2 separate regions of the Homo sapiens genome follow, and region 1 is linked to region 2. Evidence: fine-mapped expression QTL. A gene starts in region 2. The other region holds a variant in brackets. All regions are shown on one strand. Distances are from middle to middle.

Region 1 (4,389 bases), 75 kb before region 2:
GCCCGGGTGTCTTTTGCCCTTCCTAATCAAGGCCACACTCACGAACTCATTCACTGACACCCGCTAGGTCCATCAGCCCTTATGCTCTAATTTGGACCCTCAGGTGTACCAACCAGCACTCCTGGCTAGGGAGGTTTTCTTCACTCCCAGCATTTTGTGAAATTTGACTTTCTTTGTTTCTGTGTTGAGAGCAGAAAATTCATGATTCCCTGAATACATAAGGTAAGACTGGAGGGAGACATTTGCCCTTGACAACCCAGGTCCAATGACCTTGAACCTCACAGTTCTATGACCTCTGGAAGTTCAAAACCTCCTTTCCCAAAGACTTATGCTAATTCCCAAGGGTTTTGGCTTTCTCATCCTATAGATCCTTCATTGCATCTGCCCCAGCTTGAAATTCAATTCCTCTTTTAAATTCAACAACAACCATTGGCTCTTGATAAGCATTTGCGTTTGGTTTTCATGGAAGACTCAGGTGGAGCACGTCCCCAGGAGGGGCCTCTATACTCCGCACAGCCTTGCACCTTTTTGCCAGTTCTCACCCTTTTTTCGCTCTGCCTCTCTCTAATAAGAAAAAGTTCCTCTCGTTGTTTACTGCCTCGAAGTTCTGCAATTACTGCTTAGAGATGTCCTTGGAGTATCACTGTCTACTCAGGAGGCAGATTAAAATATTTCTTCCAGATTTAGTGCTCTTTTTATAAGAATTCTGGGGGGTGTTTTCCCCTATATTTTATAATCACCATGACAACATGTGGACAACACTTGAAAAATGATGTTTTCTCACACCCACTACTTCCTGGGTGCTGCAGCATGGGACCTGCAGCTTTCATTTCAGATTAGAAATCCCAGCATCTGTTGGGGGTTCTGAGATTTGCAGTACTTGAGTCTCCTGTGTGTTTACCCCAATCAGGGGCTAAGCCATACACTTAAAGTACTGGATGTCAAAAGCCAGGCCAATCAAAGCACGGCCTAGCAGAGGTGACTCAGGTGAAGCTAAGTAGGCAAGACCTTGGTATCTGGCTTTCCAAATATGAGCCCCTCTGGCTATAATGTGACAGTCACCTAGACCATAATATTCCAACCACATTATGGAATGGCTGTTCTTAAGGTAGGGTGAGGATGGTATTAGCAGGTGTCAGCTCAGGGATTCCTGCCTAGAAGTTCTCAAACCTTTTTCCATATAATACAAAAAGATGACGAGGAGAACCTAGGCAGCTGCCTAAACAAGGCAGAGCCTACCTACATGCCCAGTGGCTGAATGAAATTGAAAGGGATAATGAAAGTTTACAAAACAGAGCAAAGCCTACCCTTAAATAGCCTATCCAAACCTTTTAAGTAACTGAGGACACCATGTCTCAGAGATTCAAAAACCCTTAAAGTGAGTCAGTTAAAAGTAGGGGATCCTGTGTTGATGAAGCCACCAACCAAATGAGAAATGTGGGCAAACTCATTTTTATCCTAACATGCGCAGCAGAAGCGAGGGCGGGCATGCCCCTCAGGGAGGAAGGTGAGACTGCAGAGGAGAAAGGGGCTGATGGTGTAAGTGCAGGCAAGTGGAGGAGGCAGGCCTGGGCCGACAGAGAGCTCCGAGGGAGTTGAAGGAAGTAAGGGAGGAGGCTGTCCTTCACAATGGAAACCCGAGCCCTAGAAATCCAGAGAAAACACAAAGGAGGCCAGGAGGTGGCGGGAAAGGCCAGATTGAGGGCATCAGGGATGCTGTGCCCATAGGAAAGGATTCAGCTTTTAGAACATGCAGGTTTAGCAAAAGATGAAATATTTCTTCTTCCTCAAATCTGAATGTTCTCCAGAAGACCTTGGAAGTCTCATTACATATTCTATTCAACCCAGAAATAATGTTTACTCATCATATCTTATTGTAATTCTCACTCCCTTAGAGCTCTAGGCCAAGGTTGCATTATGACTCCAGGGTCCCTAGGCACTTTTGCCTTTGTGGGCCTCTTCTCTATTAAAAAAATATTTATATTCATGACTGCATTGGTACAAAGACAAATACATTCTTTGATCCTAAAAGGTCATATGTTTTCTTCTGATTTTAAAAGAAATTTAAATATTTTCATGGGTCCCTAAAAGTACCATGAGCCCATGACACTGTGCTATGGTCCCTAATGAATGTCAGCCACCACACTACCATTCACACATGCAATTCAGCAAGTATTTACTGAGCACCTGCCATG[C/T]GCCAGGCATTTCTATGGCAATGAACAAAACATAGTCCCTGCCTTCACGGAGCTTAGCTTCAGATGGATCAGACAGACAATAAACAGATAAACCAGTGAATACATGATATGTCAGGTGGTGCCGAGTAATACAAGAAAAGTAAATTGAGGAAAAGGAGATATGGAATGAAAGGATAGGACTAAACCTTTATATGGGATAATAAGTGAAGACCTCACGGACACTTTGATCAGCTGCCACCTGAGCAGAGACCTGCAGGAAGGGAGAGACTGAGCCACGTGGACACCTGCGGATGAGCCTTTCAGGCCAAGGGAGAGTCGGTGCAAGCGCCCAGTGGCAGCAACATGCTGGTGTGTGAGAGCAGCAAGGAGGATAGTGTGAGTGGAGGGGATGGCATGAACCACCAAGAAAGGTAGGCCAGAAGATCAGAGAGGGAGCAAAGGCTCAAGTCCCTTCCTCTGATGAGAAGGGGGCTGTTGGGAAAGTGCTGGGAGCAGGGAGCCACGGCCTGCCTTGCCCTGACATGGTACCCAGTCCATGTGTTTATCTGGTGGCTTTCTCCTTGAGTTTCCATCCTGGAACAGGCATCATTAGTCACTTCCTTATGGACCTCCATCTCTAAAGAGATAAATTCTTGTCTTCCCCATTACAGCGGCTCAAACATCTGACACTTATGTCCCACTGGTGACAAGCAGACCAGTAGGACTCCTGCTGGCTATTTTTGGCTGCTTCCTATGAAAACCTGACTGGGGCCCATTTCTCCCATCTTCTATGAAGAGAAACTGGTGGAAGCCTTCTATTCCAAAGGATATTTGTTTGATAGCACTCGGGAATTTTGAAAAAGAAGAGGACACTGAAGAATATCCACTGTCTTTATTGAGGAAGACCTTGTACTCTACCTTTCCTGCTAACCCCTCAGCAAAAATGAGGAAATGAACATGGCCCCTGAGAAGGTTCAAGTTGGATCTCAAAATATCCTAGAGTCTTTTTCTTTGCTGGACTTTTATTGGTGAGTGAGGCAGCATAATCATCCCATAACATTAAACAGTCACAGAAGCCACTGAAAAAGTTAGAAAAGTCGCATGATGGAAGATCTGGTACGAGGAAGGTTTGGGCCTTTGTATTTCCTCCTGTATTAATGGTATTCCTGGAGTTTATTCAGCTTGCTGGTTAAAGAGAACAAGAATAGGAAAAACAGGTTTTTTTTCTCAGAGTAAATTTGTATTTGTTCAATTTTAATGCAATATTTTCAAAACATCTGATGCCCACTGAAACAAAAATCACTGAGGTAGACTGATTACAGACATGGCCTTCATTACCCACTTATGCTTGATTCCATAATCTTTGAAATATGATTTTACAGTTCCTCTCATCAAGAGGCGAAGTCTATTTCCCCATCCTTGTGACTTGTTTTGGCTAAGAGAATGTGGTAGGAAGTGATACTTCTTAGACTTCCAAGTTACATCCTAGTAATACTTCCAAGACTAAGCCTCAAGAGACTTTATTTATACTTCTGTCTTCTCTCTTGGAACCCTGCTGCTGGCATGAAAACAAGGCCCAGACAGCCTGCTGGATACTGAGAGACCACGTGATAGAGGTGAGTCAGGCCAGTGGTTATAGCTGAGGCTCCAGAGGTTGGAAAAATATGAGAAATATAAGATTAGCAAAGCTACCTACACAACCTGCAGTTCTTTATAGATGCAAGAGGGAGCCCAGCCAAGACTACTCTAAGCTGCTAACCCACAGAATTGTAGGCTAAAAAATGATTGTTTAAAGCTTTTAAGTTTTAGGGTGTTTCGTTACACAGCAGTACCTAACTGATATGATGACCGAATCATTACAACTCATGCATTGCTAATGCATCCACAGTGATGTCACTATGAAGTTCTATTACAATTTGGACCTTCTGTTTATATACACTTTGCAGTCTGGGCTACCATCACGCCATCACTAAGTATTACACACTATTACAAGTCATTTTTAAGCTATTACAATGGAATAATTTAAACAGGATGATGAATTAAAAGATTTCTCAAGAACCATTTTGTACTTTGGAAGTTTCTAGTGCTTAAGGTCCCAAGAACATGATCTTCTACTCTATCATGCCCGTTCAGTAAAACCATGTTGCTTACTGGCATGTGTGGATTGCCCAGATGGTTCCACAAGTTAAGGAGATACAGACCACAAGGGAGCCAG
Region 2 (4,389 bases):
CTGAGTTATTTGTGTAGGTTTCTTTTTTAAAAACTTCAACATTAATAAACATATTTATAAATTCTAGAATGTAAAAAAGTTGACTGCCATCCTGGTGAAAATTCTATGTTTCCCTCTACTGTTAATCACATTTTGTTTTCTCGGATCTTTCCTAGGTTATATTCTTTATTCTTTGTGTATGTGTTGGAGTGACTGCAAACTCGCAACCTGTACTATATGGTTTCTGAACAATAAGTCTCCTAAAAAGAGCGTTGCCAGGCTAGACCAGCTGGCTTTCCCCTGTTCTTATAACTGTATGTTCTTAGACACACACACACACACACACACACACACACACACTTCCTCCATTCCTTCTGCTGCTGGGTAACTGCAATCTGTGACACAATGTCACACTCACAATTACGTGAAAACAGAGACTCCTAAAGGAACAAAAAGGGGGCAATGGCAGGAAGCCAGCCTACAAGTGTCTGTCACCCTGACCGCTCTGCCCCGATTCAGGTGGCCACAAATTGCCTGTTGAAGGTTGCCTGTCTAGAATTTGAAGTCTGTGTGCCCAGGCTGTTACCCTGAGTAAGTAATTTAACCTCTGTGACCTTTTATTTTCTCATCTGTAAAAAAGGCACAATAACAATATCTCTGTTAAAGAATTGCTGCGAATCACAGGAGGTGATGCACATAAAGGCATCTGCAGTGTATGTTTCATTTCCAGTTACTTCTTAACTTTCTTTTGCCCCTCCTCGCCACTTCTTTTCTGATTTGGTTTTTGTGGTTTTTAAATGTATCTTTGAAATGCATTAGCTGGAAAACTGCAGCAATCTGTGTGTTACCACAATGAGTGGACTTTAGCATCACATTTTTATTTACTTTTTCACTGAGGTAGAATTTACGTTAAGTGCACAAGTCTCAAGGGTATAACTTCAGTAATTCTTAGGTCAAGGTGAGAAGCATTTCTAGCATCCCAGAAGCCTCCCTCATGTCCTGTCCAGGTATTGACCTGGAGTTTATCTCCTTGCAAGGCCCAAAAACAACCTCTCCTCTGACCTCTTTCGTAATGATAAAGTTAAAAAAAATTGAAGGGAGGCAGGAGTCCCAGTGATAACTATTAATGCTGGGCACAAGAAGTGCACTCCCAGTCCTCCCTGTGAAGTGAGAAAAGATTCTGGAAAGGAGGAGGCGGAGGGGCACAAACCTTCTAAATCACACTGGTCATGCCAAACAAGGCCCTCATTTACAGCCAAGGACCCCAGGCACAGAGGCGAAGAGACAGCCTAACTTCCTGCTACAGAGTAACTTTCCTCCCCAATACAGCCAGTTACAAAGCGCCCTGAGTGTCAGGGATTGGCCACACTGTCCCAGGGCGCATGGAACCGCTCTCCTGGCCTTTCCCTGCAGAAACTTCTTTCCAGAGGGAGGCGCACACACGGTCCCCACGCCGCCCCGGCGCCCGCCACGGGCACACCCACGCGGCTGGCACGCCACCCTCCAAAGGCGCTGTTCCTGAGAGCCGGTGCCTGCCTGCCCACGGGGCCCGGGCGGCGCTCCTCCAGGTCCAGGGCGGCCGGGTGCCCGCCCTCCCCGCCACCTTCAGAGAGTGCGTGTCAGGGGCTGGGGGAAATCTGCTCTGCCACCTACCTACCCACCACCTAATCCTCCAAAGGACCCTAAACCCATTTGTGGCCAAATGTACATTGCTGGAGCACAGTCTGACTACTGACCCCAGGGGCTTGGAGATGAGCACGGGAGGGGTGTCCAGAGACCTGCGCTCTGTCCCCATGAGCTGTGTGACCTTGGACAAGTCACTTCACATCTCTGGAGTTGGCTTCCTCACTAGGGGGCTCCTTCTGTATTCCCCAAGCCACCTCCGGCTCTGCAATTTCCTAGCTCTCTTTTACTCCGCCCCAGCCCTTCCCGCGACAGCCCCCTCCCCAGCGAGACCCCAGCCTTTTGTTCCGGGGGCGAAGCGGAGAAGAGAGAGCGTCGCGAAGGACCAGGCCGAGGCGGCCTCGGTGCCAGGGGCTGCTCACCGGGGAGTCCAGTCCGGAGAAGTCACCAAGCAACCCCGTGGTGACCTCGCTCCCCACCCCGCGGTTTGTTTCCGCCCGGCCCGGCCCGGCCCGGCCGGGGCGGCGTGGCAGGGTGCGGGTGGGGGGCGTGAGCGCCGCGCGGCACGTCGACAACCTCCTGGGCCCGGGGCTGCAGCCCGGCGGGGGTTCCCCGGCCCTCCCACGCCCTCAGGATCTCTGTCCCGGGCCGGGCCACTCTGCTCCGGGACCGACCAGGGCGGCGGCCGCCACACCGCCCGTTCCTTCCACCCTCGGGCACCGACCCGCACCCGCGCGGGAAGCCGCTACCTGCAGGTGGCGGAGCCGGGGGCTGGACTGGACTCGAGCTCCGGCCGACGTCTCCGCCGCCGCCGCCTCCGGCTCCGGGCTCCGTCCCGCAGCGCCCGTGCTCCAAGCGGCGCCGCTACCGCCGAGCTGCGCTCGGTGCGCCCGGCTCGCTCCCCGGCCACCGGCTCTGGTGCTGCCGGGACGCGGAGGCGGGGCCGCCGCCCCCACCTGCTCGCAGGCTCCTGCCTGGGAGCCGCCGCCGCCCCGCGGCAGGGACACGGCCCCGGCGGGCGGGGTCGCTCTGGGACCCTGGAGGCGGGTCCCAAGTCGGCGGGCGCGCCTCCCGGGTACAGAGTCCCAAGTCTCAGCTGCGGAGAGACTGAGGCCTAAGGCTGGAATTCCCCAAATAGGAGCTGTTGCGCGGGCGGCACACGGCCCAGCACAGCTACTCTGGGGACACGCCACTCCTTGAATTTATTCCAAAATGTTGAGCCCTTACTAAGCTCCAGGCGGTGTCATAAGCGATGGGGACGAGAGAACAAGATTACCTCTTGCCCTCGTGGAGTTCACAGTCTAGAAAAGGAAAGCGACCAATGGGCGATTACAGCACAACCAAGAGGAGGCAGAGGCCTCCTGAGCCGGCTCCCAGAGGGAGCACCTGATCTAAACTTGGGGTGGGGAGTAGGTCAGGGAGGGCTTCTTGAGGAGCTGACGTCGACGAGAAAAACTGAAGACTGAGTGTGAATTAGCCAGGTGATGAGAGAATTATCCGGGTAGCCTGGGGAGGTAGATTGATGTCCCAGGTAGAGTCGAAGGGAGGAGAAAGCAGACTGAAAACTGAAATAGGGCCGGGCGCGGTGGCTCAAGCCTGGAATCCAAGGACTTTGGGAGGCCGAGGTGGACGGATCACTTGAGGTCAGGAGTTACTAGCCTGGCCAACATGGTGAAGCCCTGTCTCTACCAAAAAATACAAAAGTTAGCCGGGTGTGGTGGCGCTCTCTAGTCCTAGCTACTCGGGAGGCTGAGGTGGAAGGATCTCTTGAACCCAGGAGGCAAAAGTTGCAATGAACCACTGCACTCCAGCCTGGGCGATAGAGTGAGACCCTGTCTCAAAAAACCAAACCAAACCAAACAAAGAAACAAACAAAAACAAACCTGAAATAAGCTTGAAGAACGGAAAACCTTGCTTCTGTCACATTTCTTGTTCAGGCCCTTGGAGGATGCAGAAAGTTTGTGTCCGAGGCTGAATGCATTGCTGTAGGTGCTGAGATCATTGGGTGAGGATTCTGTATTGCCCATGTCCTGGGCATTCCTGCTAGTGGAGGAGCTAAGCGGGTACTCGTGGACTGTTCACTCAGCCTCGGTGTTTGAGTATCTGCCATGAGCCAGACACTCTGCAGGGCCTCAGGGCAAGGTGTCTAACTCTAAAGTTGCTGCTGGTCTGGAATAGAGGAGAAACCTGGCGCTCAGCGCTGTGCTGAGGCTTGTGTGAAATGTTGGGGACCCAGGTGAGGGAGCAGCCAATGCCAGCAGGGAAGATCTCACACGTGGATTGCAGCCTGTATTCAGGTTCAAGTTCTGTAGTGGCTGCTGTCAAAGTATGTTCCCCAAGCAGCCCTTAGCTGATCTCTTAATTACTCATGTTTGTAGCTGGGCAATGTGTCGAAAGCAAGGATTAATAATACACTTTTGATGTCTTTCACTCCAGTGTCGTCAAGAACATGGTTTTCTCTTTTGATTTAGGTGACGAAAGGTCTATGTGTAGTGAGTGGAAGCTGATGAGGCACTTGCTTTCCACCTGTTTGTCCTGAGTTCCTCTTGCCCTTTCCTCCTTTAGAATCATAATAGATGACCACAGGTATGGAACCTGAAGAACAGTTCTCCAACATAAAATTCATAAGCCCTCTTACATGGGTGATTGTTACTAAAACAAAAACAAAACCCAAAACCCCAAAACATGACCCAGCCACTCTCCTTCTCTGGACCTCCAGTGCTAAAGCTCACTAAATACATAACCACTAGTATTCTAATTCAAAAAGGAAGAAAAGTCAAACTATTA

Evidence for each region. PIP is the estimated chance that this variant, and not a neighbour inherited with it, causes the effect. A credible set is the group of variants that fine-mapping cannot tell apart.
Region 1: its variant is the best candidate, but not a certain one, in a credible set for the expression of WIPF3 in pancreas (GTEx, PIP 0.53).

Annotation. Positions count from the first base shown.
Region 1 is chr7:29,879,158-29,883,546 of GRCh38, reverse strand. The region is part of intron 4 of WIPF3 (WAS/WASL interacting protein family member 3); the gene reads right to left. Among named protein-coding and RNA genes, the nearest start is that of WIPF3, 75 kb to the right of the region's middle. RefSeq lists an enhancer at 1-315. The variant C/T (reference allele first, on the strand shown) is at 2,196.
Region 2 is chr7:29,804,641-29,809,029 of GRCh38, reverse strand. WIPF3 (WAS/WASL interacting protein family member 3) reads right to left here and starts at 2,522. Exons shown (of 9, transcript NM_001080529.3): 1 at 2,352-2,522. RefSeq lists an enhancer at 1,877-2,786.